Linked DNA regions of Homo sapiens. The protein of the gene in region 5 purifies or fractionates together with the protein of the main gene of each other region. This does not show direct contact. Each region holds a gene or a part of one and is shown on either strand. Other genes may lie near its edges.

Evidence for each region.
Region 1: the proteins of USP11 (region 5) and ENO1 purify together in Homo sapiens (affinity purification with mass spectrometry, with the first as the bait; 2 studies listed by BioGRID). This does not show direct contact.
Region 2: the proteins of USP11 (region 5) and TRIP12 purify together in Homo sapiens (affinity purification with mass spectrometry, with the first as the bait; 2 studies listed by BioGRID). This does not show direct contact.
Region 3: the proteins of USP11 (region 5) and MYO6 purify together in Homo sapiens (affinity purification with mass spectrometry, with the first as the bait; 2 studies listed by BioGRID). This does not show direct contact.
Region 4: the proteins of USP11 (region 5) and KIAA0930 purify together in Homo sapiens (affinity purification with mass spectrometry, with the first as the bait; 2 studies listed by BioGRID). This does not show direct contact.
Region 6: the proteins of USP11 (region 5) and DHX9 purify together in Homo sapiens (affinity purification with mass spectrometry, with the first as the bait; 2 studies listed by BioGRID). This does not show direct contact.
Region 7: the proteins of USP11 (region 5) and MYH10 purify together in Homo sapiens (affinity purification with mass spectrometry, with the first as the bait; 2 studies listed by BioGRID). This does not show direct contact.

Annotation. Positions count from the first base shown.
Region 1 is NC_000001.11:8,868,215-8,872,928, forward strand, and holds part of ENO1 (alpha-enolase), read right to left. Parts: intron 3,773-4,714; coding exon 3,677-3,772; exon of another isoform or gene 2,670-3,676; coding exon of another isoform or gene 2,611-2,669; exon of another isoform or gene 2,297-2,610; coding exon 2,238-2,296; intron 1-2,237. UniProt on the Homo sapiens protein: Glycolytic enzyme the catalyzes the conversion of 2-phosphoglycerate to phosphoenolpyruvate. In addition to glycolysis, involved in various processes such as growth control, hypoxia tolerance and allergic responses.
Region 2 is NC_000002.12:229,859,509-229,864,222, forward strand, and holds part of TRIP12 (E3 ubiquitin-protein ligase TRIP12), read right to left. Parts: intron 1,024-4,714; coding exon 898-1,023; intron 67-897; coding exon 1-66. UniProt on the Homo sapiens protein: E3 ubiquitin-protein ligase involved in ubiquitin fusion degradation (UFD) pathway and regulation of DNA repair.
Region 3 is NC_000006.12:75,755,739-75,759,238, reverse strand, and holds part of MYO6 (unconventional myosin-VI), read right to left. Parts: intron 1-3,500. UniProt on the Homo sapiens protein: Myosins are actin-based motor molecules with ATPase activity. Unconventional myosins serve in intracellular movements. Myosin 6 is a reverse-direction motor protein that moves towards the minus-end of actin filaments.
Region 4 is NC_000022.11:45,205,817-45,210,530, forward strand, and holds part of KIAA0930 (uncharacterized protein KIAA0930), read right to left. Parts: intron 97-4,714; coding exon 1-96.
Region 5 is NC_000023.11:47,242,897-47,247,020, reverse strand, and holds part of USP11 (ubiquitin carboxyl-terminal hydrolase 11), read right to left. Parts: intron 3,626-4,124; coding exon 3,419-3,625; intron 2,524-3,418; coding exon 2,471-2,523; intron 2,340-2,470; coding exon 2,097-2,339; intron 2,006-2,096; coding exon 1,935-2,005; intron 1,652-1,934; coding exon 1,539-1,651; intron 1-1,538.
Region 6 is NC_000001.11:182,841,652-182,846,365, reverse strand, and holds part of DHX9 (ATP-dependent RNA helicase A), read right to left. Parts: intron 3,822-4,714; 5' UTR 3,800-3,821; coding exon 3,689-3,799; intron 3,073-3,688; coding exon 2,932-3,072; intron 1-2,931. UniProt on the Homo sapiens protein: Multifunctional ATP-dependent nucleic acid helicase that unwinds DNA and RNA in a 3' to 5' direction and that plays important roles in many processes, such as DNA replication, transcriptional activation, post-transcriptional RNA regulation, mRNA translation and RNA-mediated gene silencing.
Region 7 is NC_000017.11:8,619,995-8,624,708, forward strand, and holds part of MYH10 (myosin-10), read right to left. Parts: intron 3,284-4,714; 5' UTR 3,253-3,283; coding exon 2,908-3,252; intron 1-2,907. UniProt on the Homo sapiens protein: Cellular myosin that appears to play a role in cytokinesis, cell shape, and specialized functions such as secretion and capping. Involved with LARP6 in the stabilization of type I collagen mRNAs for CO1A1 and CO1A2.

The DNA.
Region 1 (4,714 bases), on a different chromosome or scaffold from region 5:
GGGAGACAAAAAACTGCCTTCTGCTTGCTTTGATGGTTATCAGGCATTCACCCAACAATGCAACAGAGATGGCACTCTCAGACAATGCTTTTGTAACAAAAGGTTAATAGTCTACCCAGGGAGCCCAAAGTGACTTTACACCCAAGAGAACTGTCAGGTATGTGCTATGTAGACCACTGCTACCCAGGAACATGGCTTTCATAGGCAATAAATAAGCAAAGCTCACTGTTCACTCAAGCAGGCTGAGCCCTTGAAAGGCAGGCTCTGCTGCTCACTCTTGGCTAACTGCAAAGATGGCAAATCTTCATCCTCTGATGGGAGGCATGATTTCTGCAGGTAGTCCGAAATCATTTAGCAAAGCGTCTAATGATGGATCAAAATGAATTTTTGATGAGACTATAAAGTAACAAAACTGACGTACTGAGAACTGGCTCAAAGTAATCCAATAAAAATCAGTATTACTTTTTAATTTTTTAATTTTTATTTTTTAAGACAGAGTCTCATTCTGTTGCCAAGGCAGGAATGCAGTGTCACGATCTCAGCTCACTGCAACCTCCACCTCGTGGGCTCAAATGATCCTCCAAACTCAGCTGGGACTATAGGCATGCACCATCATGCCTGGCTAATTTTTATATTTTTTTTTTATAGAGATGGGCTTTGCCATGTTGCCCAGGCTGGTCTCAAACTCCTGGCCTCAAGGGATCTGCCCACCTCAGCCTCCTAAAGTCCTCCTAAAGTGTTGGAATTACAGGCGTTAGCCACTGCACCCAGCCAAAAATCAGCATTCCATTTTAAACTAATATATTAATAACAAGGCATTATTTTTATCTATGATGTGCTTGATATAAAAAAATATGCAAAGAAAATCAACTCTGATCCCATCATGCTGTATGAGCAATTTGGTGTCTTTCACAGCTTTGTCAAGGCATCACTGCAACAGGCAGGCAGTTACCCAAGCACACAGCTTCAGAGGTCAATTCTCACTAACAGTTTGGTATGTTTCTCTAGGGGGTTAAAAAAAAGTCAGGGGATCCTGCTCATCGTGTGAGTCACACTATGCAGGGGTATGAAGGGACAGAGAACAAGGTATGTGTGGAGGTGTCCGGGAGACTGGCAGGGGGTGGTGCAGACAGAACGGTAACAAGACATTTTGTCTGGGGGCTGGTCGGGCAGGGAGTAATTACAGAGTGCCACAAAAGCCAGGCCTAAACCAACGAGTCAGGGACAGAGACAACAAAGGAACTCCTCCTTTTCCCTCGTGTACAGAATGAATTCATGGAGGAGAGGGACTAGATTCAAGAATAGACGGAGGCTGTGGCTGGGCTTGGACTGGGCCTAGAGAGCTTTGTTATTTTTATTTTTTGAGACAGAGTCTCACTCTGTTGCCCAGGCTGGAGTGCAGTGGCACAATCTCTGCTCACTGCAACCTCTGCCTCCCAGCTTCAAGCGATTCTCATGTCTCAGACTCCCAAGTAGCTGGGACTACAGGCGTGCACCACCATGCCCGGCCAATTTTTGTACTTTTAGTAGAGATAGGGTTTCACCATGTTGGCTAGACTGGTCTCCAACTCCTGACCTCAAGTGATCCACACACCTCAGCTTCCCAAAGTGCTGGGATTACAGGTGTGAGCCACTGCACCTGGCCCGGAGTGTTTTTAGACAGGGGTTTTCAAACCAGTCCCATCTGATGAGCGCCACAGGAATTACGGAGGGACGGGCCGAAGGGAGGGTAAATGAGATAAAACCTGCAGAGTCGGGTGGGTTGCTGGGTCCCCAGCCCTACTTCACCTCCAGCAGCTCTTTTATGTTTGACATACTGAGATTTCCAGATTTTACTTAACAGGAACTCCACTGTTAAAGTCAGTAGAATTATAGTAAATAATTCCAAAGTTCATGAGAAATTAGTCACCATGGACACTACCACAAACACCCCTGAGAGCCACTCTTAAAATCTGGATCTTAATTTCTTCAAAGGTCCAGAGAGTTGCAGGGGGGAAGAAACCTCAGGGCTCGAAGTGTCTCATTCTTCTGATGCAATTCCATCTGCTCCCAAAAGTGGGGTGAGGCAGCGGGCAGGTTAGAATTATGTCATGCATGGATTGTTCTCGTGCGTGACAGGGAATCCAATAGGCTTCTACAGCTCTCAGAATAAGCTCTTCCATAAACAGGAAAGCCCCTGGGCCTGGGAGACGCTCTGGTGGCATTAGACACATTAGTTATCAGGAGGCAGGTCCTACCTTGCTAACCAGGGCAGGCGCAATAGTTTTATTGATGTGCTCAACAGCCTTTGAGACACCTGGAAGGAACAATCAAATCAAATTACTGACATTAACTTTAAAACAGGCTTGAGCAGCATTGTTAGAGAGAACCACTGTTGAGGCCGACGCGGAAGCCCACCAAGGGACCTTCTGTGGGACCTCTTCCCCCTCTCCCCTTTCCCCCCAGAATCGGAGGACTTTCCGGCCCAGTCTGAGTGCTCCTACCTAGGACCCCAGAGGGTTAGAGCCACACAAAACAGCAGCTGGCTCAGAACGATCTGACTGGAGGTTAGTTTGCAAGACCATGCACTGGAAACGCCAACTGCAGACTAAAGGCTGTTCAATCAGTTACCTGAGTGCACAGGGCTGGTGCCAGGAACTCATTAATATACTTAATGGGTCTGGAGACGCCTGCCCAGCAGAGGATGAAGAAGGAAAAATGAGAGAGACTCAGAAGAGAACCGGTGATTAAGGACTGCGAGTGAGAGACAGTGAGGGGGCAGGAAAGCAGAGGAGAGCATTTCAGGGGCCATGCGTTCAATCTTCCACAAATGCTTACTTACTGAGCACTCATTACCATCAAGGCACAGCATCATCCTGCTCCGGCTAAGTCCCCACGTACGCCATTAAACAACGGTCAAATGGTAACATGTTCGTGTGTGTAGAGTGCTTCTTACAGCATTAAAGCGGGACTGAACACCCAGCACCACCACTGCGACACCAGCCCAGTGTTTCACAACCTGATTTCATCATTGTCCCCTCCCTGCAGCCTTTTTGGAGTTTTCCGGGTGCCCCACTGAGAATGCGTGATCTAGCCCTATGTGCTTTTCTGTAATTTGGCCACATGTTCTATCTCTAGAAAGGTCAATGTTGCACACACACTAAGTCAATTTGAATACAGCCAGAGGCTAGCTCTGCCACAGAGCAGGGCTCCTATGAGTCAGTCAACAGGAAAATCACACTAAATGACACACCTGCAGCTCACCATTCAGGGCAGGTCATTGGTTAGACCTTCCCTGGATCCTTTCTAGCCCGTGAAGAGGCTGATGATCTCTGGAGGGCCCACAGAACCCTCCTGGGAGATGGGGAAACTTTTCTTTAGTTAACAGGCCCTGTTCTCATGCTTGGGTTCCTGTCCTAACCGTGAAGGAGTATTTCGCAGATTGGGAACAAACTGCAATAGAAGCAAGCATTGGAACTCTCGACCCAGAGCATGCAGGCTCGGGAACCCCGGAATCCACACACCAACTTTCCTGTCCACAAGGTGGTGCACTGCTTCCATCAACATCATGGGTCACAGCAGGTTTACCTGCCATAAACCTGCAAGTGCAAGTGCCACCCAGAGAGGACAGGACTGGGCAAGGCCAGGAATGGGGCTGGAAGCAGGGAGGCCATGGGCTGTGGGTTCTAAGGCTTACCCTTCCCCATATAGCGAGTCTTATCATTGTCCCGGAGCTCTAGGGCCTCATAGATACCAGTTGAAGCACCACTGGGCACAGCAGCTCTGAAGAGACCTGGATGAGAGGAAAAAAGATGTAGTAGCAATTCAGAAATCCAGTTCCAGCACAATCCCAAGTCCCCTCCCGCCCACAGATGCATTTGTCATTAGGGAGCTGTTTCTTCCTCCTACCAGCTGTGTGAATTAAACGCTCTGGGCTGTTCTTCATGCCTTTCACATGTTTATGATCCTGTACTGCAGAACTTACTGCAAAGATGACTAATTCCTCTAGCAGAAAGAAAGTGTTCTACAGCAGAGCCTACATGCCACCTGGAGGTCTTGTTAAAATGTAGATTCTGACCCAGGCAAATATGCATCCCTCACAAGCTCGCATTGGTGCCCTGTGGATTACTCCAGCAGCACTGCCCAAGAGAAATCCAATGCGAGCCACACAGGGCATTGAAGACGTTCTGGTACTTTTTTTTTCTTTTGAGACAGAATCTCGCTCTATCCCCCAGGCTAGAGTGTATGGCGTGATCTTGGCTCACTGCAATCTCCACCTCCTGGGTTCAAGCGATTCTCCTGCATCAGGCTCCCCAGCAACTGGGACTACAGCAGCCTGCCACCACGCCCGGCTAGTTTTTTTATTTTTAGTAAAGATGGGGTTTCACCATGTTGGCCAGGCTGGTCTTGAACTCCTGATCTCAGGTGATCTGCCCACCTCGGCCTCCCAAAATGCTGGGATTACAGGCATGAGCCACCATGCCCAGACAGGTACTATATTGATGTTAAGCATAAAATTAGGGTAATTTAACTGGCTCAGGAGGAGTATCTAGCTCATTTGTTTCAGTTTGGACAATGCTAAATGCTATTTTAGGGGTTCTATGCCCAACTGGAAACTGGCAAACAGGATGGATGTGGGGGGAAGGAATAAAGATAATAAAATGCGCAGTTTAATAAATGTAAGAACTGAACCAAGTAATCTTGCAGATACTGAAACCAGCCATCTGGTGAAACC
Region 2 (4,714 bases), on a different chromosome or scaffold from region 5:
GAAGTATTGGCTCTGTCTGGATCCTCTGGTTGTGGAACTATCACAGCAGATGATGAACTGCAGCTTCTAAGAGGTTAGATAAGAAAACAGTTAATATCAGCCTGTCATAATTACAACTGTCATATATAATGCTTTCAAAAAATAAAGTATGAATATGTTCCTACTAAGTCCAGTATTAAACATAGGTTTTCAGAAGGTTCAAATCTGTAAAACGAAATAAAAGAACAAAACAAAAGCAGATGTGACTTTGGATACTAAAATATCTGATTAAAAGATAAGGGTGTTCTTTAGCCCAAAGATTACTGACACTAACACTCGTAATCACAAAACAAGAATTAAGATTACAAGAAAAACAACACTTAATTGTTCGGAACCAGAGGAAGCCAGAATATTGATGCCCTATTCACAAGCACAACTGCTTTGTCAAAGCTTAGAAGAAATAAGCATTAACATACGCACTTTCAAAATGAAGGTTAGAGATTTTTATATTGTAGTACTATCAAATCTTCAAAGTTAACATTGCTTTCCAAAGTCTCTTAACAATTAAATCTTAAGAATCACTGACTTAAACCTAAACTATGGCTCTGACAATAAAAACTAAAAAAAAGATTAAAAAATAAAAAGAAATAAAAAATGGCCATAATGGTTTGTTAAGCAAAGGGGGAATCTTACGGCTCTCCAAACAAAAATATCATTTTATCATTGACAAACTCACTGTCTAGGGTATACTGCACTAATCACTGCAAAGGTGATAAACTGTCAATCCTAAAAGTTACTTAGAGAATAATGAAAATATGTATCAAAACGTTTTGGAATAACCTCAAGTTTTAACATTATGCAATGATTTGAATGCAAATAATTCTGCCTTGAAAATGTATAAGCAACATGAAGATTTACCTTTTAGAAAGGTGTCCCCTTGACAGTTCAGAAGTAGTATTAGACTGCACTTTGGGTGCCTTAGAATTAGATTTTCTACTCTCAGGAGGGCTATATCCCTTATGTTTTGCCTGCCCTAAATGTGACCTGTCAGCAGAAAATCAAAACAGAAATCTATCAGGAAACTGAGATGCAAATACAATACTGAAAATGAAATATTTTTATATATTTCTTAAAGCTTCCCACAATTCATTGTTGACCCTACCCTTTTTCCAAATATTTATAAATTTTAATTATTATTCTACTAAATAATCTGGCAAAAAGAAATTGCCTCTCAGAACCACCCCCGCCCCGCAATACCGAAGAGTTTATTATCACCAGTAGTCATAATTGCACAGCGTTGTTAAGGTTGCTTAAGCAGTAACACATTTTTCAGCAATTTTAGTGCAGATATTCAAATATGCTACATTTTAACAAAAAGCAAATTTAGACTTTAGATCTAAACACACTTTTAATACATAATGTGACTGTAATGGCTTTAAAAGTTTACGGAAAAGACAATTGATGATTCCCACACTGATACCGATTTCCAATTTGTACTTAAAATTCAGGTAAACACAGCAAATGCAGAGACAGACGAACCAATTCTCAAACTGATTTTACACAGAAAATCATTTCAAGCACTAAACAATAAATAAACCTACATGAAATCAACATAGTGATACTTGCTAAAACTTTAAAGTACTTGTCAACAGAAAGAACACAAAAAAGTCCTGGAGAAATATGGAATTTACCACAAAAGTTCCAAAAAACATTCAAATAATTCCATGATTGATATGGTGCATCATATTTACAATAAATCAAATCCTTATGCCAGCACTATTCTAAAAGCAAGTTTGAGGAACATGAAAAAACTGTTTTCAGTTAGATTATTTTTTAGACCTTGGGGAATGGTTACATGAGATTTACATAAGCAATAAAAAACAAACACATGTTGATATCCAGAAAACTGCTGCCATTCGGGTGAGATATTAATGTAACAAATGCAATTTATGTAATTCATAGCTGATATCCACTTTCCACATAAGAGCATATACCAATGAAAATCTAGAAAAAAGTTTCATTAATACCAAATTTACTTGTTAAAAAAAAGTTTAAGGCTTTTATTCCAAACACCATCTCAAAAGAACTTAGAAATGAGTCACTGAAAATCTCACAAAATAATTCTAACTCAATCTGTAAGGATGCCATAAATTTCTTAAGATATCATACAAGTACAACCATCTGTTCCAAAAGAGGACCTAAGGTTTCTCTTTTCTGTATCACTTCTTCTTCCATCTTTCCAGAATTCATGAAAAGAGTCTTAAAAGAAGGTAAGAAATTAGCTTCTTAAGAAAGGAAATAGTTCCTGGATCCCTCATATCATTTTTGTTTTTAAGGTTCTAATCTGAAAGTAATAATATGTTCTAAAGACTTATTAGAATAGATGAATTTCTTAAAAAAAAATAACAAAAAAACAAAACTCTAGGTGAGCCTTTCAAGTGTTATTAGTCTTCACTTTTAGTAATGAAAGGACACATATACTTCAAGAAGCATATTTTCTAAAGTTGTAGCTAAGCTGAACTTTGTAAGATTTTTTATACATTGTGTTTTTGTTGTTGTTGTTGTTATTTTTTATTTTTTGGTGTTTCAGACAGGGTTTTGCTCTATCGCCCAGGCTGGAGTGCAGCGACACTATCTCGGCTCACTGCAACCTCCGCCTCCCAGGATCATGTGATTTTCCTGCCTTGTATATATTGTGATTTAATTTTAATTTTTCCTAGATATTCTCCCATTGCAGACTAAAATTTTGCTTTAACCAATGAGTTTATTAGAGATTTAATTTCTAAGAGTTGCTTTTGTTTTTGTTATATTTCTACTAACAGATCTCAGAGTTCAACTCTTTTTTCTTCAGAAATGAGACTATTTTTCAAATCATTCCATAGTTATTCTAAAAAAGAGGTGTAACGTTCTGTTTTTGGGGTGTGGAATTTAACAGCTACAGGAAATATAAATTATGTCATTCAGGTCCTCTACATTCTTATTTTCTTAAAGATCGTTGCAGACTGATGTTTTAATTAAATCACGTTTTCTACTTTATTTCATTTTAAAATTTAAAATATAGCTTGTTGCATTCCTTGATAATTAAACAACTCATTCTGAAAGAAAACTACATACATTCAAAGCTAGACAACTTTGTGAAAAATAAATGCCCAAAACAATTAAAAATTATGATTCATTCCATTTGTCATCAGAAACCGGCCCATATGAAACTAAAGGTGAGGTCTGGGGCAGCAGCCCTCCTCTTTTTAACTCAAATAAATTGTTCTGTTGACTTTTATATAGCTTATGTTAGATCCACCTAATTCTACTCCTGTGTTATTTCTCATGCCCTTACTAATACCTTCAATGAACTTAAGAACTTAGCATGTAAACTCTCTATATTATACCACAAAAAGTAAACAGTATTCAAATCATTTAGAAAACCAAGGCTCACAAAACTGGCTTAAATTCAGCAATGCCCAGCAGGGCACGGTGGCTCATGCCTGTAATCCCAGCACTTTGGGAGACAGAGGCGGATGTGTCATGAGGTCAGGAGTTCAAGACCAGCCTGGCCAAGATGGTGAAACCCCGTCTCTAATAAAAACTACAAAAATGAGCCGGGCATGGTGGCGCACACCTGTAGTCTCAGCTACTTGGGAGGCTGAGGCAGAAGAATTGCTTGAACCCAGGAGGCGGAGGTTGCAGTGAGCCGCGATCGTGTCACTGTACTCCAGCCTGGGTGACAGGGCGAGACTCCATCTCGAAAAAAAAAAAAGAAAGAAAGAAAAAAAAAAAATCAACAATGCCCACACTGATCTTACCTAAAATTATTTTAAAGTGTGATATTCTAAGGACTGTTTAAAAAATATATTTTAAAAATATAAAATATTGATACTTAACTGTCCCTTCTGCCTATCTGTTTAGCCCATGGGACTTAATACATTTTCCATAAAGGAGAGTAAATATTTTCAGCTTCCTGGGCAATACTGTATGTCAAAAAAACAGGTACAGAAAATTCTCAAACAAACGAGCATGGTGGCTATACTTCAATCAAAATTTTATTTACAAAAACAGGCAGTGAGCCAGATTCAGCCCATGCGCTATAGTTTTCAACCCTGGCTAACAAGGAATAGACAACCAGATGGTACCATGAAGTGACAATATGGGGCCTCCCAAAATGGAGCTCTATTTTATTATGTCCACTTATAAATTATTAATGCTCAAAAATGCTGCAAAGTAAATCTCCATAAAATAATGATGTCCAATCTGGAATAGCCAATTAGAACATCACAGTATTCAGAGGTAAAGGAGCCTTGGACGCCTCCTTTTAGCTCATTTTACCACCTCTCTAATTTAGCAAGCCTTAATCCTTCAACTTTAGTTTTTATTAAAAAGCATAATCTTTTTAAAACCTAGTAAAATTTATATCCACTATAAATAAAATTTGTAGAACAGTATAGTAAAATGCATGACAAACTCTTTTAAATAGCACTAGAATGAGGTCATTTAGTAAATTATAGCCCAAAGATTTGGGTGAAAGAGAGAGAGAGAGAGAGAGAGAGAGAGAGAGAGAGAGAGAGAGTGTGTGTGTGTGTGTGTGTGTGTGTGTGTGCACGCGCACACGTGCACACATGTGTTCAGGAGCTTCTATAACAACATATGGGTATTCCTGAAAAAAAAACTCATGTCTCTGCAAAATTATCCACTAAAAATAACCGGGCTGATATGTTAAAAATAAGATGGGCCCAGAGCACAC
Region 3 (3,500 bases), on a different chromosome or scaffold from region 5:
CATTATCTAAAGAAATCTAAGTTTTTGAAAGTTTTTAAGATCTATAGAAATGACCGGATCTATAGAAACGGCCGGGCGCTGTGGCTCACTCCTGTAATCCCAGCACTTTGGGAGACTGAGGCGGGTGGCTCAGCTGAGGTCAGGAGTTCGAGACCAGCCTGGCCAACATGGTGAAACCCCGTCTCCACTAAAAATATAAAAATTAGCCGGGCATGGTGGCACATGCCTGTGATCCCAGCTACTCAGGAGGCTGAGACATTAGAATCGCTTGAACCTGGGAGGGGGAGATTGCAGTGAGCTGAGATCATGCCACTGCACTCCAGCGTGGGCAACAGGGTGAGACTACATCTCAAAAAAAAAAAAAGATCTATACAAACATGTATTTATACATTTTTACTATTTGTATAATCGTTAAAAATTAACAATTTTAACTAATATTAACTAATCACCTCCGAATGAAGCTAGTTAAAAAGCTGAAACAGGCCAGGCGCGGTGGCTCACGCCTGTAATCCCAACACTCTGGGAGGCCGAGTCGGGCAGATCACGAGGTCAGGAGAGCAAGACCATCCTGGCTAACACAGTGAAACCCCATCTCTACTAAATAAGAAAAATTAGCTGGGCGTGGTGGCGGGAGCCTGTAGTCCCAGCTACTTGGGAGGCTGAGGCAGGAGAATGGCGTGAACCCAGGAGGCGGAGCTTGCAGTGAGCTGAGATGGCAACACTGCACTCCAGCCTGGGTGACAGAGCGAGACTCCATCTCAAACAAACAAACAAACAAAAAGCTGAAACAGTCATTACAATCTAATTTAGGTGCGAAATTTAACACTGCATTGTCTTCTCCATACAATGCTATAAGCCCCAAATAAGCTTTAAAAAAAAGTCAATGAAGAGATTCTGGTAACATATTTCACTTCCCTCTACCACATACTGCCTGGTTAACCCAAGCAAATTGTCGTTAATCTTGTTGAAGCCCTCCCTAACCAAAAGATAAAGAAAAAGTTTAAGCTAGTAGTTCTCTAATTCCAGTTTGCACATAAATCAAAAGGGAAGCTTGCCAACATAGTGAAACCCCGTGTCTACTAAAAATACAAAAATTGGCTGGGCATGGTGGCACGTGCCTGTAGTCCCAGCTACTCGGGAAGCTGAGGCAGGAGAATTGCTTGAACCTGGGAGGCAGAAGGTGTGGTGAGCCAAGATCGCGCTACTGCACTCCAGCCTGGGCAACAGAACGAGACTCCATCTCAAAAAAAAAAAAAAAAAAAAAAAGCCAACTTCAAGATTCCAACCAAATCACTAATATATTGCTCTTCTTGCTTTTCGATGAAAATTCCACATTAAACATGACAAAAAAAAACACAGTAACAACAATAATAATGAATGTACACTATGTGCTAGCCAGTGTGATCTGTGTTTTACATGTATTATTATCTAATTCAATCCTCATAAGAACCACACCAGGTAGGTAATATTGTTACTTCCATTTTATAGATGAGAAAACTGAAGCCTAGAGAAATGAAATAATTTGACCAAGTTAATGAGTGACAAAACCAGGATTGCCTCAGGTCTGCCTATCCTCTTACCCAGGAGCTGGACAAGAAAGCACTGTGCTTAAACGCAACTCTGGAACCCCAGGGCTGTCAGAGAGAGGATTAAGCCTGACGACCAAGTAGTTAGGCAAGTAATACCCTCCCATCTCCTTCCAACCCCAATTCCCACCCCTCACCCAACAAGCTATCCTGACTCCCCACACCCATCACTCCCACACCAAGGTCGCCCACCTCTGTGATGTGTCACACATCCTAGCAGAACATCAGAAGTCTGTCTCTATGTGTGTGTGTGTATATATATGTGTATACATATATATACACACACACACACAGACTTCTGATGTTCTATATGTATATGTATATATGTTCTATATGTATATGTGTGTGTATACATACACACACATATATTGTGTATATGTCTATATACATATATACACACACATATGTATGTATGTCTATATATGTATATGTATATATGTCTATATACATATATACACAATATATGTGTGTATATATGTGTGTATATACATACACACACACAACACACATAAGTACTCTTGTATATACATATATACACATATATACACAATACATATTGCGTATACATATATATACACACTATATATGTGTGTATACATATATACACATATATACACACTATATATGTGTGTATACATATATACACACTATATATGTGTGTATACATATATACACACTATATATGTGTGTATACATATATACACATATATACACACTATATATGGTGTGTATATATATGTGTATATATATATATATATACACACACAACACACATAAGTACTCTTTCCACATTAGTATCTACTACCTGCTTAGTACTAGCAGAGACCCAAATTCCAGCACCACCAAATAAGCTTGAGCAAATTTAACATCTCTGCCCCTCAGTTTCCTAATCTGTAAAATGAAGGTCATAACACCAGCACCACTGAGGTGACACAGTGATTGAGCTAATGTATACAAAAATACTCACTTGGCATAATATCTGACATGGTAGTAAAAGCTCAATAAACAATAGCTGCTATTGGCCAGGCACAGTGGCTCATGCCTGTAATCTCAGCAGTTTGGGAGGCGAAGGCGGGCAGATCACCTGAAGTCAGAAGTTCGAGACCAGCCTGGCCAACATGGTGAAACCCCACCTCTACTACAAATACAAAAATTAGCCAGGCATGGTCGTGAGCACCTGTAATCCCGGCTACTCAGGAGGCTGAGGCAGGGGAATCGCTTGAACCCGAGAGGCGGAAGTTGCAGTGAGCCAAGATTGCACCACTGCACTCCAGCCTGGGTGACAGAGCGAGACTCCGTCTCAAAAAAAAAGAAAAAACAATAGCTGCTATTAAAATTATACTTTGCTAACCTCTTCTCTTACAACACCAACATATCAGTCCTAGTCCCATTTGTTTTTTGCTTGCTTGTTGTTTTTTTTTTTTGAGACAGAATCTGGCTATGTTGCCTAGGCTGGCCTCAAACACCTGGGCTCAAGCATTCCTCCTGCCTCAGCCGCCTGAGTAGCTAGGACTACAGGTAAGCATCACCGTGTCCAATTCTAGTTCCCATTTATTTTCTCTCAGTTTTCTTTGCTAAAAGTGTGATAAATGATGGAACATACTTATATTTATCAAAGCAGGTTGGTAACAGCGCCATAACCCAATAGTCTGGGAGTCTTCGACAGATAGGTCAGAAATATTCCAGAGCAAGTAAGTCATGCAGTAGCCTTTAAATTGCACAATTTTGACAACTGCCTATTTCCCAACTTTAGGGTCAGCCCTGTTGATTACATCCTAGTATGAAGAGTCTATAATTAACTTAATTCAAAACAACAATAAAATGTCAGTACAGGGGCTTGGTCTTAATTTAATCACTGTATCCCTAGAACTTAGAATAGTGCCTGGTCCGTGGTAGACACTACAGTACGTTTTA
Region 4 (4,714 bases), on a different chromosome or scaffold from region 5:
GACGCTCTCCTCCCAGTCGATGTCAGGGTCTCCCAGGCCTGGCAGCTTCTTGGAGTCCCGCCGGTACACCTCCACCTCCACCTCAGGCTCAGCTGCCTGCGAGGCCCAGAGCAGAAGTGAGTGCCCAGGGCCCACTGTGGTGCTCTTCTTCTTCCCTGACTACTATGCAGGCATTACGATGGACAAGGACTCCAATTCTTTTTTCTTACTATTTTTTGAGACAGGGTCTCACACCGCTGCCCAGGCTAGAGAGCAGTGGTGCAATGACAGCTCACTGTAGCCTCAACCTCCTGGGCTCAAATGATCCTCTCACTTCAGCCTCCCAAGCAACAGGGACCACAGGCACGTGCTACCACACCCGGCTAATTTTTAAAACTTTTTGTAGATGTGGCGTTTCGCCATGTTGTCCAGGCTGGTCTTGAACTCCTGGGCTCAGGTGATCCTCCTGCCTCGACCTCCCAAAGTACTGGGATTACAGGTGTGAGCCACCATGCCCGGCCAGAACTCCAATTCTTGCTCCCCAGTTCTCTAGCGACGGGAGATGGGACCCAGGGGCCATCCATTCTCCTCACTAAGCCTCAGTTTCTTCATCTGTACAATGGACTAAGGGCATCTTCCCCTCAAAGTTGTCATAATGATTTAAAGAGCTCATATTTGCTAAGTGGCATCAATGATAATAGTGACACCTACTGAGCTCTTAGTGGACGGCGGGGTCTGGGCTACACATTTTACAAATTATTAATCCTTTTAAAGCAACCCTGCAATGCAGGTATCATTAGCCCCATGTTAACAGATCAGAGTCAAATTTACTGAAGATCAATAATAAATACATATCAGAGAGAAACCAAAGCATGTCTACACCTCTCCTGGGAGACTGGCTTCCAATTTTTTTTTTTTTTTGAGACAGAATCTCACTCCATCCGTCACCCAGGCTACAGTGCAACACATCTTGGCTCACTGCAGTCTCCGCCTCCTGGATTCTAATGATTCTCCTGCCTCAGCCTCCTGAGTAGCTGGGATTACAGGCACGTGCCACCACACCTGTCTACTTTTTGTATTTTTGGTAGAGACAGGATTTCACCATGTTGGCCAGGCTGGTCTCGAACTCCTGACCTCAGGTGATCTGCCCACCTCGGCCTCCTAAAGTGCTGGGATTACAAGCATGGGCCACCGTGCCCGGCCTCAATTTATTTCTTATTTATTGTTTTGAGACGGAGTCTCGCTCTGTCACCCGGGCTGGAGTACAGTGGCACAATCTTGGCTCACTGCAACCTCTACCTCCTGGGTTCATGTGATTCTCCTGCCCCAGCCTCCCAAGTAGCTGGGATTACAGGTGTCTGCCACCACACCTGGCTAATTTTTTTCTGTATTTTTAATAGAGAGGGGGTTTCACCATGTTGGCCAGGCTGATCTCGAACTCCTGACCTCAAGTGATCTACCCACCTCGGCCTCCCAAAGTGCAGGGATTACAGGCATGAGCCACTGCACCCGGCCTCAATTTATTTCTTATTTTTTTATTTTTTTGAGATGAAGTCTTGCTTTGTCACCCGGGCTGGAGTACAGTGGCACAATCTTGGCTCACTGCAACCTCTACCTCCTGGGTTCACGTGATTCTCCTGCCCCAGCCTCCCAAGTACCTGGGATTATAGGCGTCTGCCACCACACGTAATTTTTTTTTTTTTTTTTTAATAGAGACGGGGTTTCACCATGTTGGCCAAGCTGATCTCAAACTCCTGACCTCAAGTGATCTACCCACCTCGGCCTCCCAAAGTGCAGGGATTACAGGCGTGAGCCACCGCGCCCAGCCTGGCTTTCAATTTTGAAGCAGCTGTGCTGACTGGGGGCCTCTGGTCCCGGTCCTGGGTGCTCTCACTGACTCGGGCTCCGAGGGGCTGGGCACTGCTGGGCCCTCTTGCAGGTGCACAGGCCTGCACCCCCCAAAGGCAGAGCTGGGATCTATGGAAAGAGGTGCAAGAGGCCAACCTTGCCTAGGAGCGAGAAACAGACGTCCCCGGGTCGGGGGGCCCCACTTCCACCGCCTGTATGGTTCTGCAGTCACCCCGAGCCCCTGAGCTGAGAGTCCTGGGGTTCACAAGACTCTGCTGTTCCTCCTGGTCTCGCTTCATTGACCTGTTCATTTGCTTTTGCTCAGCAAAGCGCTGTGGACTCAGTGAATGAAAGGCTCGGGGGCACGATCACACGGCTGTTCGGGGCAGCACCACAGCACAGGCAGGCGAAAGAGCAGGTTCCCCATCAGAAAGGTGTCCGTGTGCGCACCAAAGCCAGGCCCAAGAGGACACTGGGAGCTGCCCGGTACCCACTGACAGGAGGGTGGCCAGGCCGCCATGGTACACTCTGCAGGCATTACACAGCAGTGAGACCAGATTACAACCACCTGTGTCAACAGGCATGACTCACAAACATGACATGCGGAGAAAGAAGCCTGAAACAACATATACTGCCCGATTCCAATGTATGAGCTGTGAGAACAGGCAGAACCACCGACTCCACACACATGAGCTGTGAGAACAGGCAGAACCACCGACTCCACATGCACGAGCTGTAAGAACAGGTAGAACCCGCCAACTCCACACACACGAGCTGTGAGAACAGGCAGAACCCAACTCCACACGCAGGAGCTGTGAGAACAGGCAGAACCACCGACTCCACACGCACGAGCTGTAAGAACAGGCAGAACCCACCGACTCCACATGCAGGAGCTGTGAGAACAGGCAGAACCCGCCCGGGAAGTTTGAGGAGACAGAGCAGCAGCTGCCCAGGGGGAGGTTGAGCCCTGGGGTGGGGTGAAGGGGCCTCGGTGTTCTCATCACACTCTGTATCTGGGGGCTGGTGAAACCAGGTGTTCAGTCTAAGAAGAATCAAACTGTGTACACGTCTGTGTTTTTCTGTATAGACGTTATATTGAAAACAATCTACTAAAAAGGAAAAAGTGAGACTGGGGACAGGGCTTCGCCGCTGGCAAACTGTGTGACCCCAGGAAGCTTCCTCCCCGTCTCTGAGCTTTGGTTTTCTGAGTGGGTGTGAAGGTGATCGGCACCTTAGGATCCTGAGGTGTCACGTGACCGTGAGACACAGGGCTCCGGCCACCAGCGCAGAGCCAGCAGCACACAGAGCCAGGTCCCCCTCCTGCCAAAGGCACACAATGGGCTGCCCAGGAACACAGAGCGTTTTGTCCAGGGCTGGAGGAAACAGAGGGCAGGGAATCCAGGACATCCCTCCCTGGGAAAGGCTGGACTGGGGATGTCCCTTGGGCCCTGGAGCACTCGGGGTTCCTGGCATCCTGTCCCCCTGACACTGCAGCTCCTGCCCATCCACGCTCCCCTGCTAGGTGCAGGAGGCCCGGCTGGTTGCTATGGCAACCGGGTACCAGCGGGATGGGCATGGGGAGGGGGCGGGAAGTAGCCAGGCTCCCGCAGAGGACTTGCAGTGCGCAGGCGACTCCGCGGGTCCCCCACCTCCACCGAGCGCTCAGGGCTTTTGCCAGGGGGGGTCTCCCCGTCTCCCCATCAGCGCCTCCAGCCTGCCCCCTGCAGGCCACCCTCAGCACTGCAGCCCGACAAGCTGGGAAAAATGCCAAGTTGGGGCAGCCCCAGGACCCACCCACCAGGCCCCGCAATCTCCATCGGCCTAGTCTGGCAGGTCCCATGTGGCACTCGTCACACACCCTCCCACTCTGCACTCACTGGTCCCTCCACGGGGCGTGTCCTCAGCCCACTGCTGCCCGCTCTCTCTGTCCTACAACCCGCCCGCCAGATGTCACCTTCTGCACTCCCCCCACCACCGCCGCCCTGCTCCTCTTCCCACCATCACAGCACTGATGGCTCCATAGCACTGGCCATACCGTCTGTCTATCCAAACAGACTGAGGCCAGATATGAGTCATTTCTGTGCTCCCAGCACTGAGTGTGGGGGGGCATCTGCACATGGCTCACAGTGGGTGTTCAATAGAACATTCTAGCATGTAAACAGCTGGACTGCCACCTGCTCCCGTGGGACTCAGGCTTCCCTCACTGACCTCGACACCCCCAAATTTTCAGCAGATCCTGGATGTGACCCCATCCCCTCTGCTCCAAATTCCTCAGGCCTAGATCCAGGGCTGCGCTTTCTCAGTGGAGGGCTCTCACCTTTAACTTCTGCTCCACCCAAGATGGACCCCTCATCTGCCGTTCCTTTCTCCTCCCCCTACCCCGGCCTATCCAGGGTGCACACAACCCGTCCTCCCACCTCCCTGTCTGCCCTCTTGACCAGAGTCGTGACCTCTCTGGAATCAAAATTCAAAGTACAGCTGAGAGTGTCTCAAATGCACCAAGTCCTCGTTAGAGCCCTGGCTTGCAACAGACTCTGCCTTGGGGAAAAGACCAACATTTGGGGGTGGGAGAAAAGTTCTCTGCAACCTGAACTCCAGCAGAAGCTGAGAGGCCACAGTGGACGGAGGCAGGGGTGGGGTCCACAGCCCTGGGACGACAGAGGGCCTGAGCCTCCGAGTTCCGGTTCCCATGGGTGAGAGGAGTCCCTCCCCCAGAACTGTGCAGAGGTGAGAGGAGCCTGTGCCCGCCATGAGGGTCACGGGCAGTGAGGATCCTGAGGCACCATCCACCCCCCTGCCAAGGGCACTCATATGGTCACACTAACCCCAAACATCCCAGCCTCCCAGGTGTCCAGAATGGGAGGGCCCTCACCTTTCGGGGCACCTG
Region 5 (4,124 bases):
GAGACAGAGAATCGCTCTGTTGCCCAGGCTGGAGTACAGTGGCGCGATCTCGGATCACTGCAGCCTCCACCTCCTGGGTTCAAGCGATTCTCCTGCCTCAGCCTCCCGAGTAGCTGGAATTACAGGCATGCACCACCATGCCCTGCTAATTTGTGTATTTTTAATAGAGACAGGGTTTCACCATGTTGGCCAGGCTGGCCTTGAATTCCTGACCTCAGGTGATCCACCCGTGTCGGCCTCCCAAGGTACTCGGATGACAGGCATGAGCCACAATGCCCAGCCAAAACAGACTTTTTCTGAGCACCTACTGTGCGCCCTTTGTACTGCCTCTCACGTGCCATGTCTGGCTCACAGAAACACTGCTCTTACTATTAGCCCATCTAGTATTCTAGTTTGCTCTGTTCCTGTTAAAATCCTTTCACTCACTCGTCAAGTGCTTACTATCTTTTGTATATGTGCTCATACTATTTTTTGTATTTTTGTTTGATTTCTGTTCCATGAGATGCTAGTCTTATTTTAGAGCCCACCTCTATCCTTCTAGTTTCCTCTCTTCGTATTTTAGTCATTCATTCACTCCCCAGTATTTATTGATTGCTTGTTTAACCCTTTGGAACTATTTTGTATTTCTGTTCCATTTCTGCTCCACGGACATGCTGCTCTTATTTCTGAGACTAGGGAGTGTGGTTTTGGTTCTCTTTTTGTTTATTCTGCAAGTGTCTACTGAGCATCAACCGAACACTCAACACTATTATAAACAGGTAGAAGCAACACACAGTGAACTTAAGTCTTCACCCTCGAGGAGTTGACTCTAACGAAGATGACAAATAACACAAAAGTGGATACAGGACATCACATCAAGTGGCATCGCTGAGCTAGAAAGTAATGCTTGGCTAGGAAGAAAAGAGCAGAGAGGGGATGGAGAGGGATGGTGGGGAAGGGTGATTTTTAACAGGGTAGTCAGAGGAGGTCTCTCTGATGAGGTCACATTTGATCGGAGACCTGAGCATCGTAAGGAGTGAAGTCCTGTAGATCACTGGGAACAACATTCCTGGAGAAGGAACAGCACAGGCCAAGGCTCTGGGGTAGGAGTCTGCTCAGGAGATTGGTGGCCAGGTTGGCAAGAAGGGTTTGAGTGTGGAGGAGGGAGGAGGAAGGTATACTTAAAGAGCTAAATATAGGCCAGGTGTGGTGGCTCACGCCTGTAATCCCAGCACTTTGGAAGGCCAAGGCGGGTGGATCATCTTTAGTCAGGAGTTCGAGACCAGCCTGGCCAACGTGGCAAAACCTGTTTCTACTAAAAATATAAAAATTAGCCAGGCATGGTAGTGGGTGCCTATAATCCCAGCTACTCAGGAGACTTAGGCAGGAGAACAGCTTGATCCTGGGAGGCAGAGGTTGCACTGAGCCGAGATTGTACCACTGCACTTCAGCCTGGGTTGACAGAGCCAGACTCTGTCTCAAAAAAAAAAAAAAAAAGCTAAATATAGTAGTTCCATCCAATGAAACCCCCACACACAGGCCCCGCTCTGGCCCCTCACCAGGGGTTTTCCTTCTCCAGGGTCTCCACAGTGGTGAAGAGCTCAATGCACTCCTGCAGCCGCACGGGAGCCTTCTTCATCACGTACCCGACGCAGTCATGCTTCACGTAGCCCTAGGATTGGGTGAACAGACAACCAGATGGCCGGCTGTGAGGACAGATGGAGAAATGGGGAGTGGGGGCCCAGCGGGGGAGACACACACTGAGTGGGTCAGAGCACCGACTTTGAAGCTAGGAACCTCAGGCCCTGGAGCTCTCAGTAGGTGTTCAGGCCCCAAGGCCAAGCTTGACCTGGATCTCTTGGCTCTGTTCCCAGCTAGAGGAGTTGTGGGGAGGATGTACGAAGAGTTGAGGGGCAAGAGCTGGAAGTACCCCCCATCCCTGGGATCTCATTTACCTCAGCCTCTACCTCGTCATAGTAACGCTTCTTCATCTCTGGCTCCCAGTCGATAGCAATGTACGGCTGGGCTGGGGGTGAGGGAGAGGTGGTCATGGATCCTGCTGCCAGGAAATCTCCCCTCCAGCCTCCCCAGCCCTCGCTGATAGCCAAAGGAAATACCATGGACTTCTTCAGGGGAGGTTGTGCGGTCGCTGGTCCCATTGGAGTTCACCGTCTGCAGGGTGAACAGCTGCTTGCGTCGTCGCCTTGGGGGCCACTGAGATGTGCCAAGGCAATTGTCCAGGAGGAACGGGCACCTGTTCGTGACTCCAGAGCTGGGCCCAGCCTGCTCTGGCTCAGGGTCTCGGAGGCTGCCCCCAGTTGAGGGCCCAGGGACGTCATCTTTATCCTCCTCGTCATCTTCTAGGACAGGAGGATGTCAGAGATGGGAAGGTGTGAGCCTCAAGTGCTAAGCTGCAATGCACACCTAGACGAACCCTACGTGGGTCAGACCTAACCCAGAGCCCCCGCCCACTGACTGTTAGCCCCCTCACCTTTCTCATCCCCATCGTCCTCATCATCTGAGTTGGGTTTGGTCACGTAGCGTCTGCAACAGAGCAGAGGAGACTCCCAAGACGGGTACAAGGACAGTGGGGATAGAGCCCGGGATTTTACTTAAGATAATGGGAAGCCATTGGTAGATCCACATGTAAACCGTTCTGAATCTGAGGTGTGAGAGGGCTGAAGGGGTGACGCGTAAATGCATGAAGAGGCCAAGGCTGTCAGCAGTGGCCTGAGAATGAAGGAACTTGTGTCCCAGTCAGAGGTGTGGAGTGTGATTAGCTGGGCGTGGTGGCGCGCGGCTGTAATTGCAGCTATTTGGGAGGCTGAGGCAGGAGAATCGCTTGAATCCGGGAGATGGAGGTTGCAGTGAGCCAAGATCATGTCACTACACTCCAGCCTGGGCAACAGAGCAAGACTCCATCTCAAAAAAAAAAAAAAAAAAAGGTATGGAGCGTGGACTTTTACTCTAATAAGCCACTGCTAGACAAGACACATACCGGCTGTAACTTCCCATCAGGGAAAGCCTCTGGGGAATGACTTTTGAATGCAAAATGAGGGGGGAGAATTCTGATAACACAATGCTTTGTGTGCCACAGTAAAGACTCTAGATTTTAGGCAAAATGAAAATTTGTCAGCAAAAAGACAAAAAAACCAAGACTCTCCCAGGAGGGACAACAGTCTCCAGGAGAGACAACTGAAGACAAGATGAAGTTGTCTGTTTTGTGCATCTTGTTCACCTCTGTATCCCTAGCACCCAAGACAGGCAGTAGCAAAGCCAGAGGTCTAGAGAAAGAAAAAACCCTACAAGTTCTTCTATGGCCATGTTAAGTTTGGACTGTCTTTTGTTTGTTACAGGGGAGGTGTCAAATAAGCAGCTAAACACCCAAGTCGGAGTTCAGACCCCTCCGCCCCCCACCCCCGGGGAAGAGGACACTTACGAGAGCCGGTACATCAGGACGTTATACAGGCCCTCCCAGGTGAAGCGGTCCCGGGGCACTGATACCAGGAGGGGGTGTCCAAAAAGCATCAGGCCGTAGTAGGAGTTGTTGTAGTCACGGGCAGGGGTGCGCTCCCGCAGGTAGACAGGAACCACGATGTCCTCTCTTGAGCCCTCAATGGCCTCAATGCGACCTGACACCTCATAGCTGTGGGGGGTGGACAGCAGGCACACCTGATCAGGGCCCCCAGAGACTCCCTGACTCTGCCCTGGCTGCCCCACCCACTCATCCTCACAGCCTGAAGGCATTTTTATTTTTATTTATTTATTTATTTATTTTTGAGACGGAGTCTCGCTCTGTTGCCCAGGCTGCAGTGCAGTGGCACGATCTCGGCTCACTGCAAGCTCCGCCTCCCGGGTTCATGCCATTCTCCTGCCTCAGCCTCCCGAGTAGCTGGGACTACAGGCACCTGCCACCACGCCCGGCTAATTTTTTGTATTTTTAGTAGAGACGGGGTTTCACCGTGTTAGCCAGGATGGTCTCCATCTCCTGACCTCGTGATCTGCCTGCTTCAGCCTCCCAAAGTGCTGGGATTACAGGCGTGAGCCACCGCGCCCGGCTTTATTTATTTTTGAGATGGAGTTTTGCCCTGTCGCCCAGACTGGAGTGCAGTGGCGTGATCTTGGCTCACTTGAACCTCTCGGGT
Region 6 (4,714 bases), on a different chromosome or scaffold from region 5:
ATACTCCTGCCTGAGGCAGGAGAATCGCTTGAACCCGGAGGCAAAGGTGGCGGTGAGCCGAGATCATGCCACTGCACTCCAGCCTGGGCAACAAAAGCGAAACTCCATCTCAAAAAAAAAAAAAAAAAGTACATCTGGTCTTCAATCCCATTTCCCTGGCATAGAAATCCTAAATCCTTATAATCTCCTAAGTGGAGACTTTCTGTATGCTAACGAGTTGACTGCTGGCTGGCAGGCCCTAGGTAGCTTCAGGTGTGGGGGGATGGTCACCAGAACCACCAAGGAAAGATTAGAGGGCTGAAACTTTCGGTCCCACCTCCCAGCCTCTGGGGAAGTGAGAAGGGCTGAAGGTCAAGTCACCAATGGCCAACGATTTAATCAATACTGAATAATGAAGTTTCCATAAAAACCAAAGGACAGGGTTTGGAGGGCTTCCAAATGGCCGAACAGGTGGAGGTTCCTGAAGAATGGTGTTCGAGGCAGGGCATGGGAGCTCCCTGCTGCCTCCGCCATATCTTGCCCTACTTATTTCACCAACTGTATTTTGTAGTATTCTTTATAATAAACTGGTAAATGTAGGTTTTCCTGAGTTCTGTGAGCCACACTAGCAAATTAACTGACCCCAAAGAGGCAGTCATGAAAACCATAACTTGAAGCTAGTCAGTCAGAAGTTCTAGAGGCCCAGACTTGCAAGTGGTGTCTGAAGGGGCTGGGGAGTCTTGTGGGACTGAGTCCTCACCCTGTGGAGTCTGACGCTATCTCCAGGTAGTGTCAGAGTTGAACTGGAGGATACCCTGCTAGTGACTGCTGCAGAACTGATTGCTTGCTTGGGGTGTGTGGAAAAAGTCCCCCACCTCCACCCCACATTTAGTCACAGAAATCTTCTTTGTTGATTGTTGTGGTATGAGAGAAGAGGAAAATTGTTTTTTTTTTTTTCCACTTACATACCAAAAGAGGGAAAAAAATATCTGGTACCCCAGAATTCTACATCCAGTGAAAATATTCTTAAAGAAGGTAAAATAAAAATATTTTCAGAAAGAGAATAAGAGAATTTGTCACTAGCAGATCTACAAGACCATAGAGAAGAGCCTAAAAGATAAAGAATAGAGGGAGACTTCAAACATGTAAAAGACATTTGCAAAACTGTTTTCTCTACCAGAAGGCATTTTTAAGATGATCTTGCCCAATCCCTTCATTTTACAGATAGGCAAACCAATAAAATTAAAGACTGTAAGATACTATAATTACCCAGCAGTTAATCTACCGGAAAGTAAGTCTATCGAGTTCTTAGTCAAAGGAATGGAAGGAAATAAGATTTCTTTCATAACGAGTCAGAATACTGTCATAAACAAGGCAGAATACAAAAATTCAGTAACAGGACCCTGTTAAAACTGGCATAGACAGGCTGGGCACAGTGGCTCACACCTGTAATCCCAGCACTTTGGGAGGCTGAAGGGGGCGGATCACTTGAGGTCAGGAGTTCAAGACAAGCCTGGCCAACATGGTGAAAATCTGTCTCTACTAAAAACACAAAAATTAGCTGGGCGTGGGCCAGGCGCCGTAGCTCCCACCTGTAATCCCAGCACTTTGGGAGGCCGAGGTCAGGAGTTCGAGACCAGCCTGGCAAAAAATGGTAAAACCCCGTCTCTACTAAAAATACAAAATTTAGCTGGGCATGTTGGCAGGTGCCTGTAATCCCAGCTACTTAGGAGACTGAGGCAGGAGAACTGCTTGAACCCAGGAGGTGGAGGTTGCAGTGAGCACTGCACTCCACCCTAGGTAACAGAGCAAGACTCCGTCTTAAAAAACAAAACAAACAAACAAACAAAAAAAACCTTATTTCTTAAAAACTACTAGAGCCTAGTGTAGCGGCACACACCCACAGTCCCAGCTACTGGGGAAGAGCTGAAGTGGGAGGATGGCTTGAGGCCAAGAGTTTGATTGAGCCCCAAAAAGAAAAAAGGCAGAAAAACAAAACAAAAATCCCCCAAAACAACCTACTAGACAGAGGTATTTGTTGCATACTTACGTAATATAATTAAGATAATCATGACATAAAAAACACAAAAATACTCCATTGCATAAAATACTATTTTGTTATATAAGGACATGTCAGCCAGGTGCAGTGGCCCATGCCTGTGATCCCAGCACTTTGGAAGACGGAAGTGGGTGGATGGATCACTTGAGGTCAGGAGTTCAAGACCAGCCTGGCCAACATGGTGAAACCCTATCTCTACTAAAAACATAAAAAATAGCTGGGCATCATGGAGCGTGCCTGTAATCCCAGCTACTCGGAGGCTGAGGCAGGAGAATCGCTTGAACCCAGGAGGCGGAGGCTGCAGTGAGCCGAGATCACTCCAGCCTGGGCGACAGTGCAAGACTCTGCCTCAAAACACAAAGAACTTGCCAGAAGTGGTGGCATGCACCTGTAGTCCAGCTACTAAGGGGGTTAAGGATGAAGGACTGCTTGAGCCCAAGAGTTTGAGGCTGCAGTGAGCTATGGTTGTGTCACTGCATTCTAGCTTGGGTAACAGAGCAAGACCTCATCGCTTACGGGGCAGGGGGAGTGTCAATGGGAGCAAACATGTCTAAAATATTACTGATTTTTCTATTTTATTTAAAGTATTATCATTGGTAATGAATGGAACATAACAGACTCTGAAATTTCTGGTGTATAAATACATGAAATAAAGCCATAAGACACAAAGATTAATGGAATTTCTCAAGCCCCTAAGACAGGTATATAATAAGGATGCAATCCACATCTTCAGAAATTTTGTCCAGTGCTGAGACAAAACAAGATGCCAAATTTCATTACGAAACACGATATATCTGAAAACAGTGAAAAATTACTATCTTGAGTCTCTTACGCATATTGAGTTTGTACAACTTTACAACATACATCTCAAGTGCTTCGCCATAGGTACTTACCCCAAAAGCTGGAACTTCTTCACTCTTTATTTCATTTATTCGAACCAAATAGTTAACAAAGTCTCTGGCAGCATTGCTTTGTGCATCTTTTTTATTGGTGGAATTTCCCATGCCAGTGTAATTATAACCTTCCACCTGAACCTTTAAAAAAAAAAAAAAGTACTAAGAGACTGACCTGGGTAATTCTGAGATTTTAAAAAGTCGTAATTCAGTAGTCCATTAAGAGACAACAAACAGCTAACTTTAGGAAATATACTCTATAAATATAAATATAAAAATAAGAGAATGCATGAGCTACTGAAAAAGCTTAAATTGTGTTGTATCCAAAAATAATTTAAGTGGCTCAGATTTTTTTTTCTCATATAACAGAAGGTTCACATTAAAATCTGATTCTGTAATATCCATGAACAAGCTCTCCATTTGTATTTAAGCACTTTGATTTGAAGCAATCAAGAATTGCTCTGCTTTCTAAACGTGCTTATAAAACTGCAAACAGTTGATCCAACTTTTCCCATCCCCACTACTGGTACTGAGGAAGCTGAGGAAGATATAGGCTCTAATTAGAATAATTTACCTGTCAGATTGTTTTAAAAGTAATGCTGACTTGAAAATGATTTACAATAGCAGTCAAGTCACAATAAAGAACTGTCGTTTCCTAATGTGCAACACATTAACATCTCCAAACAGAAAACATTTTTCTTTTAACCCCAAAATGAACCTCATAAATCACATAAATGCAAACTGTATTCTTCAGTACCTCACACATGAATTTCTGCCTGTTTTTGTTCCCCACTGCTCTAATTTCATAGGATGGGGTCATCTTCCTTTTGCCACACCAGGCATACAGAAAATTTTTAACGTCACCCATGATTCAAGTGTCTTCTTCAGATCTAAGAAAACAAAAGTCAGTTAAAAACAGCATTTATAATAGCAAAAACTGGGAGGAACCAATTATCTAGATTACTGAATCTGGGTTAAACATAGGATATTCTATCATGTTGCTATTAAGACTCCCCATAAATTTTAACGACATAATTGGAACGTTTATATGTTGTAAGAAAAAGGATACAAAACGGTATGATTTGAACTTCATGAAAAGTACATATACATGATCAAGACTGGAAAGAAATACCCCCTAAAATGGTTATCTTTGGGGACTAAGAGTGATTTTTATCTTTTCTTACAAAGTATTTTATATAAGGCCCTATATTCTACAACGGGCACCTTATATATTTAACTCAGTTCATCCTCACAACAATGGCACACAGATATGGTGGGTACTATCATTGTCTTTTCAGGAAGTAAGAAACTAAGATTTAAAAAAGTAACTTCCAAGTCACCCACCGTGGAGGCCTAAATTCAAATCCAAACTACTATATATTAAGAAAGTTATCATTTGCATATAAATTCAATGTTTTATTCTCATTCTGATTATGACCACTAGCATATTGTCCCCAAAGTTGTAGGCCATGTATTAATAATATAATAAAGTTCAAATACATTAAGCACTCAGTACTGAAGACGGTAACCTATTAACTTAAATGTTCTATACCAAATCTCTCCTTTAGGCCTTTTTATTAAAATTTGAGGATATTAAAGTTTTCTTGAAGTGCAACAAGTCTATAAAATACCACAAGATATGGAGCCTATCAGTCTAAATGCTGAGTCTAAACTGTAAGCAAGATATGAGACCACATTTATAACCAGAGAAAATAAAATATGCTATGAATTTAGTTTGCTGTGAGAAGAAATCCCATTACCAGCATTAAACCGTCTGCTTCAC
Region 7 (4,714 bases), on a different chromosome or scaffold from region 5:
CAATGGGAGATTTTTCACACATTTTTCTCAGTAACTGACAAATCAAGCAGACAAAAAGTAGCAAGGCTATGGAAGATATAAACAATACAGTTAAAAAGCTTAATCTAACAGCCATATATTGAACCCTATATCCAACAGTAACAGAATACACATTCTTTGCAAACACAGACCACTCATAAAAGCTGACAATATACTACACAAAAAAGTCTCCTATATGAACAATATTCTGTGATTGAGATGTAATTATTTTAAAAATGAATAATAAAAAGATAACTTAAAAATCAACATTTTGAAATTTTACAAATACACTTTTAAATGGTTCACTAAAGGAATCATCATAGAAATTAGAAAATATTTAGAACTGAAGACTAAATACTACATATAGAAACTTGTGATGTGAGCTAAAACAGTATTAGAGAAGACATTTACAGTTTTTAAACTGTTTTATTAGGAAAGAAGATGAAAATTAATGACCTGAGAAATTGGGGGTCAGAGAGAATAAATCCAAAGAAAAGGTAAGAAAATAAAATAACTAAACCTGTTAGCAAGCTAATTTGTTTAAATAAATTTATGTTATATCTTATCTATAGAAATATGTCCAAAAAAGGTTCTACCCAAATTATTCTAGTATCTATATTATTGAACCTCAACTGATCATCCCAACTGGCTGGTTAATTCCAAAGCCCAATACATATTTATCACAATGCTAGCATGGCTCTCCCCATCCCCATCCTCTTAACGACACAGACTTCTTTGGAGTCAAGTTCTCCAACTAGAACCTTAGGTAAGAACCCTTTCTCCACCCAACTAATTGAAGATATGATCCTCCCAAACCCCGACCTCTGTGTGACCTTGAGACTTTGAGAAAAACTCAGATTCTCCTGTAGAAGGAGGCTGTGCTTTGAAAAGAAACTCAGAAGTTCACTCAGGTTGTCCATGAGTTAAGTTGGAAAAAAATCCAACAAACTCAGTAAGAGATAACTGTAAAATCTCTGAATTATGTGGAATGGCTGCAAAACAAAAACAAAAACAACAAAAAAACACCTGTCCTTTCTTTCATTCCTTTTCTACTTAGCACCCTTTGCAGCTACCTCCAGCTGCCAGTGTGGGAAATTAAGGTGAAGGCTGGCAGAAAAGCAGCCTGGCTCCTCTTCACACTGCACAGTTTTTGATGGTGACATCACATTTCCATACCTGCACAATTTATTGCAATGGGCTTCATCTGAAACTGATCAACCTCTCAAATCTTACATGTCGACATTACAATCTGACCATAACCTCTTAATTTTGCAGTTTTCTCACTCCTTCACCCCATGATCCCTGTTCCTCAACATTCTGAAAACTTCCAGGCCTTGATCCATCAGCCCCTCCCACCCAGACTCCCATTCCTACCGAACGAGGACTCCAAAGACGGCCACTGAATCCCCCTCTCACTGTGGAAGCCATGCAGATCCAAAGCCCCCCACACTCACAGACCTGAGACAATCCCATGGTCTGGCAAAATCACATAGCCAGGCAAAATTGCGGTCACCCTACACGTGGTTATTCAATCTCAGCTGGACTCTCAACGCCACTCTCCAGTCGCTTTCTTATCCCTGGCTTAGTCTGAAATTGGAAAAGGGTTGTTCCTAAGCCTTTCCATTCTCCTCAAGCCACCGTTCCAACCCTGTGGCCTCTTACTCTCCTACCTCATAGAGAAGAAAATAAGGGAGATCTATCAGGCTTGGTTGAAACTACTCTGGCAAAGGTCATGAATGAATCATTCTTTTCTCAGCTTTTCTCGTGGCTAGCTGCCTCCCACCAGTCAGACTCCAGCTCAAATGCTACCTTCACAAACAGCCCTTAACTGACCCGCTGGAGAAAGCCATTCTCCTACTTACTCTCTCCATAGCCTTGTTTCATTTCCTCATTGGACATTTCAGAAAGGCAGAGAGACCTGGCCTGTCTTCTTCACTGTACTATCCCCAGCACCTAGAGCACAGGGGGTGCTTAATAAATATTCCTTAAACTAATTCTGTAGGAAAACTAGCTCTGATTTACTGAAGTTTTGAATTATTCATGACCTTCAGTAGCACACTCCTTGTGTAAAATTCAACACCCCTTTTCCGATTTCAAACCACGACCATCAACTTTTCTTCCTACTTCCCTTCATCGTCAGTTTAAGTCCCACACGTGCCACCTTCTTCAAATCATTGCCACCTCTGTCTACCATTCCCTCAAACCTATTTTGTCATTTTAGATTTTTCTTTTAGTATCTGGCTTACATTTTTCCTCTCTACATTATCCCTCTCTACATTATCCCTTATGATTTTCAATAACTTCTTCTACATGGTCAGTGACAAAGTCGGTGACTCCAACATTCATGTCAGCTGCTAACCACAGGACGACCCCAGCCAGCCTCAATCTTACCCTAATTGTTTCCTCTTAAAAACCTCAGCATTCATCTTTCCTACTTCCCTACTACATCCAGTGAAGCTGTTCATGCTGTCCACAGAAATTTCTCAGCTTACAGCCCCTCCACTTTACTCTTGGGTATGCACTTGATTTTTGACCGTTTTGCTGTCTGCGTCCAATTAATGCAACTCTCTTTACCTTATTAAACCTTCTGGTCTTCCTGTTACATGCTCTCTCCCACCTTATTATGCTCCAGAAGACCACTACAAAAGTCTTCAAATGCCATTTTATTATATGTAATTGCAGCCTGTATTATTTAAACTTAATGTGTTAAGATTCAAAGAAAAGCAAGACATGGGTAAGCAAGCAACAAATCTTTCTATCTTAAAGAGAAATAGAAATGTTAAACAGAGAGTTTGGGTATTCCACATTCTCATTTGATTATGACAAGATGTATAATTTACATTAATTCCTAGCTACCACTTCACATGATTATTTGGAAGAAATACTTACATAGATTAGTCCTGAATAGTAGCGATCCTTCAGATTATGTAAAACGGAAGCTTCATTCAAGCATGTCAATTCTGCCATATCCTCCACCTTGGAAAACTTAGGTGGGTTCATCTTCTGAATATCATCTTTGTTGACCATTGCTTTCTTTCCATTCTCTGCCAACTCCACCATAACTTCATCTCCCCGTTCTTCTTTGATACTAGCTGCCTCAAAACCATGGCGTTCTGATGGAATCCACACTAGCTTTTTAGCTGTCCAATCAGCTTGAGTGGCAGGGTTGTAGATGACAGCCCTGTCCACAAAGAGATACCTCTCTGGATCCTCGAGTCCAGTTCTCTGCGCCATTGTAAATGGAACGATCCAAAAGCAATTGCCTCTAAGAGAAGAGGAGGAGGGCAAAATTAGATGTTTAAGAAACAAAAGAATGTACACGTTTTTCTTTTCTAAGAAACTTAAAACCTTAGATTAAGCATTAACTCTGTGTTAAGGAGCTGGGGTATACCTCTTCACAGCCATACTAACCGAGTTTCCAAGGTAAATTTCAGCGGTGACCACAAATTATGGCTCTGGTTGTCTGATGGGTTTGCCCTCAGTTACTGAGGGCAAAAAAAAGAAAAGAAAAGAAAAGAAAAGGCAAAGTTACAAGTTGACCCTTTTTTTTCTTTATCTCCTCTTTCACCCTCACCACAAATTAAACAGGGAGTTAAGAAGGGAAAAAAAAAAAGAAAACAAAGATGGGTAATAAAAGGTTCATGAAGTGGTACCAGAATTAATATGACCACAAGGAAACAGCTACAAAAACACATGATTGTCAGAAGAGTAAAGAATCTAAAGAATCTAAAACATGCCTCTCATTCTACCCTCAGATAACAGACTTAAAGTTCTTCTTATGAATAACCCAAATCAGTCTCCCTCTAGCTTTTCTATGGCCCCATGAGGTCTTAATGTGATCAACTGGGACCACAAAAGACAAGCATAACTTGGCTTCACACGGCAGCCTTTTGAATATGTCATGGTAGCAGTTCAGGCCTCTATTCCCATCCTGCAGCTCCTCCACCCCTCATTCACCAAGACTCCTTCCCCTGCCGGATCTCTCGCCTAAACAGACTCCAACATGCTGCTTGTCTTCCCTCTAAAGTGTGTGGCCCAGAAGCAAACATCATAGCCCAGATATGGTCTGACCAGTGCAGAAGAAAAAGGAACCATCAACTATCTTAGCCACATTGAGGAAAGTACTGGTTCTGTGACATTTACAATTAATGTATCTCAAGACCTAGTTGTTTTATTTAGCACCCATTTACCATTGGCTCACAAAGGGCTAGCAGAGGAAGCTCCATCACTTTGTGGCTAAGCTATGTCCCCTCCTCTACTTGTGCACTGGCTTTCTGGACCAAATGGCAGGATTTTACATCCATCATCTTTCTAATGTGACTCATCATGATTGCCTGACAGGATCTTTTTGGGATTTGATACCAACTTAAACATTTTTGCTGCTACTCCAAATTCCAGGTTATTATAAATTTCATAGGCATGGCTTCCATCACTTCATTCAAACCAACAGAAGAAGCCAACTGAGTACCTACTCTTGCTCTATCAAATCCCCACTTCTCCCCTCTGTTCACTCCACTCCCCTAGCCAAAAATGCTAGAGGTTCTTTGTAGGCAAGAGGAAATCATAAAGTAGTCTAAGGTTGTTAAGAGGTTCTTGAGTCCATCAGCTAATCTCAACTTCAACAAAATCCCTGAAATGGTATAAAAATATTATGCACTTAGCGTGTGTATATATGTGCTATAACGTTCTCTAGATT